3 linked regions of the Homo sapiens genome follow. The protein of the gene in region 2 purifies or fractionates together with the protein of the main gene of each other region. This does not show direct contact. Each region holds a gene or a part of one and is shown on either strand. Other genes may lie near its edges.

Region 1 (3,728 bases), on a different chromosome or scaffold from region 2:
AAGACAATGGAGAGCCAGGGGAGGATGAGGAATTAATTAATGGGTAGAATGTATGTTATTCGGGTGATGGATACCCTAAAAGATCTGGCTTCACTGCTACCATCCATGCATGTAGCAAAATTACACTTGTACCCCCATACATTTATACAAACAAATAAAAATAAAGTTGTCACTTTAAAACACATGCAAGAATCCTGGGAGAAAGATACACTAAGATCCTAGCATTTACTTAATATTAAGGTAACTGGGCTATTTCATCATCTCATTCATTAAAGATCTCTAAATAACACACTCCAATGCCATCTACTCCACATTTTCTGTTCATAAATGAACATTCACTCTAATAAAGTGGCAGAAACAGAAAATTAGGACTAGAAAACTCATAAGTACACAATATTACCACATTCCTAATTTTAAAAAGCACTTTTCTTAAACCTTTTACTGCTTTAGGAGTAGCATATTTCTGATCTTTACAACGTATCTTATGTTAAGCAAGTTAAGAATCTCCATTTTGCAACAGATGAATAAAATGTTCAAAGCAACAAAAATTGAAGAACTAGAAACAGATCCCAATCCCTCTAACTCCCTAGTCCATAATGTTGAAGTCACATTTGACCCAACAAGCAATTTCTAAAAGCAGGAAGGCAACATCTAAAGCCTTATATTCAATCAACCAATCTTTAAATACATCAATCAATATCTAAGCATCTCAAACATTCTAAATTCTGATTTGTAAATTAAATCAATGATGTACTAGTAATCAAAAACAAAGTAAATGTGCATTCTGCAATTATAAAACAGATAAATCTCAGCCAAATCTGGCTGTAACTTACAAGCTCCTTAAAAGCCTCAGTAAGGAAGAATTTTGTCTTTTTTTCTATCAGAAGTGATGTCTGTGGAGGTTTCTTATACCATTAGACACTTGTGCTTGAGGAAATTAACACTGAATACTTGAAGGAGAAACTGGCACAGAAACTGGAAGCAGAAAACCAATTTTGACACAATTACAAATATTCAGAGAAGAAAGCTCTGAACTACAGCAGTGAGGTTAAAAACAGAAAAATTCAAGGACATGTCAAAGTCAAACCAATATAGCTGAATGAGACACAAAAGAGTGGTATCAGAGAAGCCCCAGGATTCTCTCGATTAGTGACTAGACTGCAATATATGAACAGAAAAGGAAATATGGCACAGTACGACACATCCACTCTGAAGACTGTGCAAGACATCTAGGTGGAGATGACCAGACAGTGGCAGAAATATGAGCACGGATCTCGTTGGAAGGCTTCACCTAATCCATATTTTGGACTAGCCCACACCATGGGGTCACCAACATTAAGCAGCAAAAGAAAAACCAATCTAGTTTCTCACCACTGAGTACGTAAAAATTAAAAAGAGAAACCCATCAAGGACACTAAAAAGAGGTAATCAGAAAACTAAGAAGAAAAAGAAGGAAGAAAGCAGCATCTTAGAAGCAAGGGAGAATATTTTGAGGAGGAAAGTCATCAACAGCCAATTCTGCAGTATTTCAGAGAATGAAAACAGATCGCTGGGCTTGGCAATTGGGCCTCTGAACATTTCAACAGATGGGAGAAATGGGACAGAAGTCAACCATAATGGACTGGGGACCCATGGGGAATTGAAGAGGTAAAGACAGAAAACATAAGATGGTTAACAATGAAGAAAAAAGGGAAGATTGAATGGTACTTCATGCAAGTTGTCTTATGATTGGGGAGATGTAACTGTTCTAGATATTTAAGAACTTGAAGGAATAAAGAGGAAGAGCCAAAACATTAAAAAAAAATTAAAACATACACTGAGTACTTACTATTGCTAGACACTTCTAAATCACAACAATTCTATGAGACAGCTACTATCACTATTTGCATCTTAAAGATGCATAGCAAAATTAAATAATTTGCCCAGGGTCACAGAGTAAACAATAGAGGAATTGGGATTTGAACTCTGGCAATTTGGCTCCAGAGGAGATTTTTTTTTTTTTTCCAGATGGACGTTCGCTCTTGTCATCCAGGCTGGAGTGCAATGGCACCATCTCGGCTCACTGCAACCTCTGCCTCCTGGGTTCAAGCAATTCCAGAGGAGATAATCTTAATCACTCATAAAATTAACAATATCAGAGATCTAAAGAAATGGGTAAGATCCACAGCACAGATGGGAGAGTTAGCCTAAGAAAAAGATACACATTTTTTTCTCTGAAACAGGGAGGAAGGGAAAATGACAGTTTTGAGGTGGAAGGAAGATACACTGCCAAAAATTGTGTCTGAAAGATTCTATTTTCTCTGTGAAGTATAAGGCAGGAGGAGTAGGATGGGTTTGAGGGCACTCCTCCAATCTACTACTACTAACAATTCAGAACAGCTATGACGGGGAGTTCCAAAAGGAACTACCTAAGGACAAGAAAAAGGGCTCTGGGGACCTCCAAAAGGTCAGCTGAGGTCAAGGGGTGAGGGTGGTAGGACAATGCAGTGGAAAGCAGAGGCTGATGGCAGTGTGGAAGGAAAGGACGAACTCTGCATTCTTCCTCAGAGAGTTTACCCAAGCTCAAGCTTTCAATCATCTAAGCCAAAACTTAGTTCAGACTTCTGCTCTTCTGAGCTTCTAGTCTTTACATTCAACTTCCTATCTCACATCTCCAGTTGTGTGTCTCAAAGGCATGTGATGCACAACATGTCTAAAATAAAAAACAAGCTGGTCCATTTCTAACCAGTCTTCCTTTCTCAGTAGCTATCACCACCCTCCTAGTCACATAAGGCTCCAAGCCTAAGAGATGTTCTTAGCAACTCCTCCATTATCTTACTCTTTGGATTTTCATCTTTCTCTGATACATTCATCTCATTTCACCCTCAGTCCAAGCTTCCATTGCCTCTTACTTGGACTGCAGTAACTCCTCAAGTGGCTGCAGAGGAGGGAGATTAGGATATGTATACATCATACTGTTTTCTCTTCTTGGCTGAACAGGAAAGACTGCATTCCCCAGCCTTCCTGGCAAGCTGAGTTGGCTGTATGACTGAGTTCTGAACAGCCATTTGAGTTCTGAACAGCCAAGCTGGGCCCAGTTATGTAAACTACTTCCAGTCCTGGCCCTTTAAAAGTGATCTTTAAATACACTAAATACAGCTTTTTAGATGTGAATCCTACCACAATAAAATGATTTTTAAAACATCAAAAATTAAATAAAAGTTAAATAAAAGTGATCTTAAAGCTCTGTTTTCTCCCACCAAGATGACCTTGGTAAGCATACTTCATGATAGGAGAAGGCTGCCCAACCCTTCTGGACTCTGCGTGACAGAGACAAATCTTTACTGTGTTAAGTCACTGAGATTTTGAATTTAATTTGTTATTGCAGTTCTAATACAACAAGACTGCCCATACCAACTGCCCATCACCTTTACCCTCCAATTCATCCTCTACATAAACATGAATCTGATCACCATACTTAGAACAGTCCAGTGGCTTTCCATTGATCTGAAGGTAAAAAATAGCTATTTATTTATTTATTTATTTATTTATTTATTTATTTTTGAGATACGGTGTCACTTCGTCACCCAGGCTGGACTGCAGTGGCATGATCATAGCAAACTGCAGCCTCGCACTCCTGGGCTCAAGTGATCCTCCCACCTCAGCTTCCTGAGTACTGGGACTATAAGCACGTGCCACCATGCCCAGCTAATTTTTAAAATTTTTTTTGTAGAGACAAGGTCCCACTA
Region 2 (3,600 bases):
TTTCTAAGGTCTGATTTGCTTTCTCCTCCCAAGCTCCTAGTTGCTCAGTTAAGTAACTTCAGCAGGTTCCATTCATAAAATAAAATTTAGATTAGCTGAGGGAGATGTCTAACAAAGAACACTGAGCACTTTTTCCTCATTTTCTCTCATTCCCCACGAGCACTCACCATGGCCACAACCGGCCCTGAGTTCATGTACTTCACCAGCCCAGGGAAGAATGGTCGGTCTTTCAGGTCAATGTAGTGCTGCTTCAGGTGTTCTTCAGAGGCCTGGCATTGGAGAGGAGGCACCAGTTAGGAGCTAAGCTGGAAAGACTCCAACCCATCCTCTGAACCTCCCATTAGCAAGTCCGGTTTTATATTCTAGCCCACGTTCCTAAGTGGTGTGTGGAAATATATATATATATACACACATATACACACACATAAATATTTTTTAAATCCCATCCAAACCATGAAACTAATGCCATTTTAACAGAAAGACTGTTCTTTTTTTGGTGTGTTGTTTTGGTTTGTTTTAGGAGACAGGGTCTCACTATCATCACCCAGGCTGGAATGCAGTGGCACAATGATGGCTCACTGCAGCCTCAACTTCCAGGGCTCAAGTGATTTTCCTACCTCAGCCTCCCAAGTAGCTGGAACTACAGATGCACTCAACCATGCCCAATTAATTTTTATTTATTTATTTATTTATTTGTAGAGACAGGGGCTTGCTATGTGGCTCAGGCTGATCTCCAACTCCTGGGCTCCACCCACCTCGGCCTCCCAAATTGCTGGGATTATAGGCGTGAGCCCCGCGCCTGGCCAAGACTGTTCTAATCGTAAAGACACCCTCATACCGTCAATGACATTAGGGGTTTTGTAAGCCTAAAAAGTAGGTGGTTTGAGGATCTAGATTTAGGGAATTAAATTTTGGCTGCAACTGAAGTACATATGTCAGGTCATCTGCCTGGCAGAGGTCATGTTAAACTCCCCTGGGCTACTCACAATGCCCTTTTAAATATTTCAGATAATAACTGAGAACATTCTCTTCACCGATGAGCCTGGTTGAATTTCAGTACTTAGATTCTTACCCGTAAGTGTAGGGATTCAGATCTGTGCCCCAAATTTAATGTGGAAAATACACTCACTACCCTATGCTAAAGGAGGAGCACCGCACTGGAACTCGGAGTTTCAGACTAAAGCAAAGGAGATTCCAAGCCTCCATTCTGTGCCTAGGTGGACCCGAGTGGGCAGGCGCAGGGGGTCTGGGGCCCGGGGTTTTTCCGCTCCCTGCTGCCCCCCTGCGGCGGGTGGGCAGGTAGCGGCCCGCGGGAAGGAACCCAAACCCGGAGGGCGAGTCACGCTACCAGCGCTTCACCTTCCCAAGGGCGTCTGTCCCCACCACCCCGGGAAAGGGTCGGCGGGCCCAAGCCGCCGTGGGCGGGGGCAGAGGGCAAAGGGATTTCGCGGCAGCGAAATGAACTCGGAAAGCAGACGCGGACAAACCGCCGCCGGGAGGGAAAAACACCCGCGAGCCGGCTGCAGCGGGGAAGGGGAGACGGGGGCGAGTTACCCGGAGGAACTTCATGGCCACGAGGCGGAATCCCTTCTGCTCGAAGCGCTTGATGATCTCGCCCACCAGGCCGCGCTGCACGCCGTCCGGCTTGATGGCGATGAAGGTGCGCTCCAGGTTGGCCATGGTCCTGCGGGGCGAGAGGTGCGGTCAGGGCCCGGGCGCAGGCTCTGGCGGGGCCCGCGGAGGCCACGTGGGCGCCGCCGGTCCCTCCTCCCCCACCACGCGCGGCCGCGGGGACACGTGGCTTCCCGGCCGCTTCCGCCCCGCGCAGGGCCGGCGTCCCTCTGCGGAGCCCGAAGGCCCGCGGGGCGCAAGCTGCAAGGGAATCTCCCGCTCCGACGCCGCGCGGGACCTGCGGGAAATCGGGGGGCGCCCACAGACCGGGCCCACCTGCGGCAGCGCAAGCGGAAGAGGGAACGGGAGGAGTCGCCAGGGGATGCGCCCCCACCGCCTTACCGGGAAGCTGGAGGGGCCGGGCGGCGGCGCTGCGCTGGGAGAGCAGAGAGCTGGTGCGACCACCACACCCGGGAGCCGGCGGCGGAGGAGGGGCGCAGGGCGGAGCGCGGGGTGGCCACACCCCGGAGGGCCCAGCCGCCCAACCCGCAGGAACGCCCCACCCGCCCGGCCCGACGCGGCCGGAGAACAGTGTCCACGCCCAGCCGGGGCGCGCCCTCGCCAGGCAGAGATCGAGACGGATCCAGAGACAGGAAGTGATTCCTTCTCCACCTGGACGTCCTATGAGTTCAACTACGCACGTCCCAAATCCCACTCCTCACCTCTCAGTACTTCCCGTGACCCCAAAAGCTCCTACACACACACACACACACACACACACACAGAACCTGCTCCTGTGCTCGAGTTCTCTACCCCGGTCAAGGCCATCTGCTGCTTTCACCATCCGCCCGAGCACCGGCATTAACCTTGACTTGGCTCTCCCTCCCCGTCGTGCACCCACGGTCCTTATCCTCCCTACCTCTGAAATCCAGCCTTCCCTCCCCTCTGCTTGAGCCCTGGTTAAGCCTCGGCCTCCCAAGGGGCCTCGATCTCACCTCTCCGCGCAAACCGGGAGCTTTGCTCAGCACCTCAAACGGCCATCTGGTCCTGCCTCTGCCCTGCCTTGATGACTCCCCCGCCTACAGGATGGCGTTCAGACTCCTTAGCGGGATGCTCTTCTCGCAGGATGCCCTGCTCCCTGGCTGCCGCCTCCCCACCTACATTTCCAGCCCCAATCAGCCGCCCCACTCCCACCCTGACATGGGGATCCCTGCCCACCTGGCACTAAAGTGCGGTCGAGTTTTCCAGTTCACCCTGAGGTGCGCCCCTGGACCCTGAGGAAAGTCTAGACCCTGTCATAGAGATTAGGCCTGTCATCGACCTGTAGACACTTCCTACTTGCAGTGTCCCTGGCAAACAAGCTCCCTTTGGTGATGCCCAGCTTCCCTGGGGCGGTCACAAGCCCCTCCTCTCGGCGCCTGCAGCACTGACTGACAGCCGCACAGCAGTGGTACTGCCCTGAGATGGTGAGAGCCCGCTTGCTTCCCCTCAGGACTCTGAGCTGACCACAGCAATCATGCCATCACCCGAGTGCCCCTAGCACTGCGCTGATCACCTGTCACTGGCCAGATGGATGACAATCTGGCCTCTGTTATACCTTATCGGCTTTCCAAACTTCTAGTTACAGAGCATTAGCCCACCACACATTGACAATGACTGTCATGTGCCCTCATCTGGGGGCACTGTTATTTTTTGGCTTCGATCTGAAACACACTCTCATTTGGATTACCAAATGTCAACTGTGAAAACAGGTCTCGAAATTGCACGGACTTTTCTCTGTCCAGGGGAGAGCTATCTGCTCCCCTTGGTCAGGTCACTGATGGCTACTCAGGGTACAGTCAGGACCACCCCTCTGCTTTCACCTCTTCTTTCCTTCCTGGGAAGACTGTCCTTAACTGGGGAGGCTGTAACCCTCCAGCTTCACTACACACATGTTCATTCCCCCAAGTCCTGGTATGCTCATCTCACGCCCCAAAACAAACAGGCCAC
Region 3 (2,677 bases), on a different chromosome or scaffold from region 2:
CAAAATTGATGATCATGGCCCAAGGCCACACCCTAGAAAGGAAGTTTTAGTCTCTCCCAGGCACTTAGTTCACAGGTGCTTAGGATCAATCAACACGGCTTCTTCCCTCCAGCGACCACCACCAACTCACTCCTGCTCATTCCCCAGCTCTCCACGTTTCCTCACCACTGCAACCCCCACCCTCACCACTCCAACACAGACCACCTCACCCCAAGCCCGCCTGAGGGACCTCTCACCTGGAGACAGCTTCACTTGCCAGGACTGATGGCTGTGCCAGCAGCCAGCCCCACCCTCTCAGTGACTGAGAAGCTGTTCCAACTGTAGAGGCAGACCCAGCCAAAGGCAGCAGGCAGGATTAGCCAATTCCATTGACTAGAAAGGGCCTTACTTCCCTGTGGACACTGCCTACATAGTCTGCATTCAGCTGTGAGGTCCTGTCCCCTCTCAATTCCAACCTACACCACCCCCCAAAGCAAGTGAGAATGAGGATGGGGAGGAAACTCAAGACAGGGGTTAGCACTGCAACCTCTCATCTCTGCCCTCCTTCCTGTATCACTCACTGCACTTTGCCCAGTATTCCTCCCTTCCCCACAGTGGCACAGTGGCCCCAGACACAGCCAGAGTCCATTCAAAAATGACAAATTCTTTATTTAAATCAACAAACTCATCTTCCTCAAGCCCCAGACCATGGTAGGCAGCCCTCCCTCTCCATCCCCTCACCCCACCCCTTAGCCACAGTGAAGGGAATGGAAAATGAGAAGCCACGAGGGCCCCTGCCAGGGAAGGCTGCCCCAGATGTGTGGTGAGCACAGTCAGTGCAGCTGTGGCTGGGGCAGCAGCTGCCACAGGCTCCTCCCTATAAATTAAGTTCCTGCAGCCACAGCTGTGGGAGAAGCATACTTGTAGAAGCAAGGCCAGTCCAGCATCAGAAGGCAGAGGCAGCATCAGTGACTCCCAGCCATGGAATGAACGGAGGACACAGAGCTCAGAGACAGAACAGGCCAGGGGGAAGAAGGAGAGACAGAATAGGCCAGGGCATGGCGGTGAGGGACTGAGGCCCCTAAATTTTGGTCCCAGGGGAAAGGAAGAGGCCAGTTGGTCCAGTTTTGATGGCTATGGGGAAGGGAATGTATTAGTAAGCATGGGGGAGAGGATGCCAGCAGGCACCTCAGAGGTGACAGGACAGGCTGAACCCCCCACCCTGACAGAAAGGAGCTTGAGAGCTCTGGGGCTCTCTGGGAATGTCACTGCTAAAATATATATCTACATATATATTAACCATTCGTGGGAGGGCAGGGGCAAGGCCTGGGGTGGGATCAGAGGATCTGGCGTGGCATCCCGTAGCCAGTCATGCCTGCCTGAGACGCCCCGCGGTTGGTGCCCATCTGTAACCCGATCACGTTCTTGCCCTCTTGCAGCTGGTTATCCGAGAAGTTCCGAGGATTCTCCTTGGATTTCCTGGGTGACAAGGGAGTGGTGGTTAGAGGAGATCACAGGCTGCCCTAGTAAATCCCTTCCTTGGACAGAGCACAGGCTTTGCTGTTGGCTCAAGGGCTGGTGCCAGCTCTGCCCTCGAGAGCCATAAGCTCTCTGAAGCCACCTCCTCATCTGTCCAAAGGGACAGTCATTTGCCATCCCAGAGGGTGTTGTGAGGATTAAGTGAGATGAGGAATTTTCTGAAAGTGCTTTGTAAAGGGCCAGCTGCTACTGAGATAAGTTATTTCCTAGGGACAGGATTGGGCAGAAACAATGCACCTGCTGGACCCTGCGGCTGTCCCAGCAATACTTACTTAGGGAACCAGTTGGGATCCCCAGAGAAGAGCCCATCATCTCGGGCTACTGCCAGCCCACCCAGATTCATCAGCGTCCGCTGCACACAGGCCATGTTCTTTCCTGGGAAGGAGAATGGGAATGTGTCAGCCTCCGCAGTGTCCTAGATACCAGGGTTCCGCCTCTATCGCTAAGTCAGCAGGCCTGGCTTCCTAATTATTTCTACTGTTCATTTCCATACCCTTCTCCATTCCAGCCTCCAATATGACCAAGTGCTCCATGGAACACAAACACACCCCTCTTTCTCTGCAGGGAGCCAGAAAACAGCCCCTTCTGCCTGGTCAAGAGGGCCCAGCCCAATCTCTGGCCTCCTGGATGACAGGACCCAGCCCCTCGCCCTGTCCCACCTTCCCAGAGGTCCACAGTTTGGAAGATGTCAGTGGTGTTAATGCCATAGCGCTCAGCTGCTTGCAGGAACTGAGAGATCTGCTCCATCTGCTTGAAGGCCATGGTGGAGGCCTGGATCTTCTTTACTGGGGCCTGCCCCTCGGGGTACAGTGCATTAATGAGCTCACATAGCACCTGGATGAGGACAGCAGGGGTGGAAAGGTGAGAATATGCCTACCTATCGCAGCTCAGCGTGCACCACCCTCAGAACCAGAGACAATGAACCAGAGAGGCTCCTGTCTTGCCTGAAGACAGCTTGGACTCTTTCACTAGAGTAAGCCTCACAGTCCTTCTTGCCAGCCTCCTTCCTCCGAGCCCAGAGTGAAAAGCCAGTGTTTAGTCTTTCCTTGCTAATATACCCTCCCACAGTTCTTTCCTTAGAGACATTCTTCCTCAGTGTCACCTCAGTCTTCCACTGCCTGGGAGGCACATTCACCCTTACCCTCCACTCCACGGGAAG

What was found.
Region 1: the proteins of NME2 (region 2) and DSTN fractionate together in Homo sapiens (co-fractionation; 2 studies listed by BioGRID). This does not show direct contact.
Region 3: the proteins of NME2 (region 2) and TAGLN2 fractionate together in Homo sapiens (co-fractionation; one large-scale study listed by BioGRID). This does not show direct contact.

Annotation. Positions count from the first base shown.
Region 1 is NC_000020.11:17,593,896-17,597,623, reverse strand, and holds part of DSTN (destrin), read right to left. Parts: intron 1-3,728. UniProt on the Homo sapiens protein: Actin-depolymerizing protein. Severs actin filaments (F-actin) and binds to actin monomers (G-actin). Acts in a pH-independent manner.
Region 2 is NC_000017.11:51,164,911-51,168,510, reverse strand, and holds the start of NME2 (nucleoside diphosphate kinase B), read right to left. Parts: upstream 2,101-3,600; 5' UTR 2,014-2,100; intron 2,011-2,013; exon of another isoform or gene 1,948-2,010; intron 1,790-1,947; exon of another isoform or gene 1,685-1,789; coding exon of another isoform or gene 1,681-1,684; coding exon 1,555-1,680; intron 270-1,554; coding exon 168-269; intron 1-167. Other genes in the region: NME1-NME2 protein, read right to left, coding at 168-269, 1,555-1,684. UniProt on the Homo sapiens protein: Major role in the synthesis of nucleoside triphosphates other than ATP. The ATP gamma phosphate is transferred to the NDP beta phosphate via a ping-pong mechanism, using a phosphorylated active-site intermediate.
Region 3 is NC_000001.11:159,917,484-159,920,160, forward strand, and holds the end of TAGLN2 (transgelin-2), read right to left. Parts: intron 2,353-2,677; coding exon 2,178-2,352; intron 1,894-2,177; coding exon 1,791-1,893; intron 1,459-1,790; coding exon 1,317-1,458; 3' UTR 628-1,316; downstream 1-627.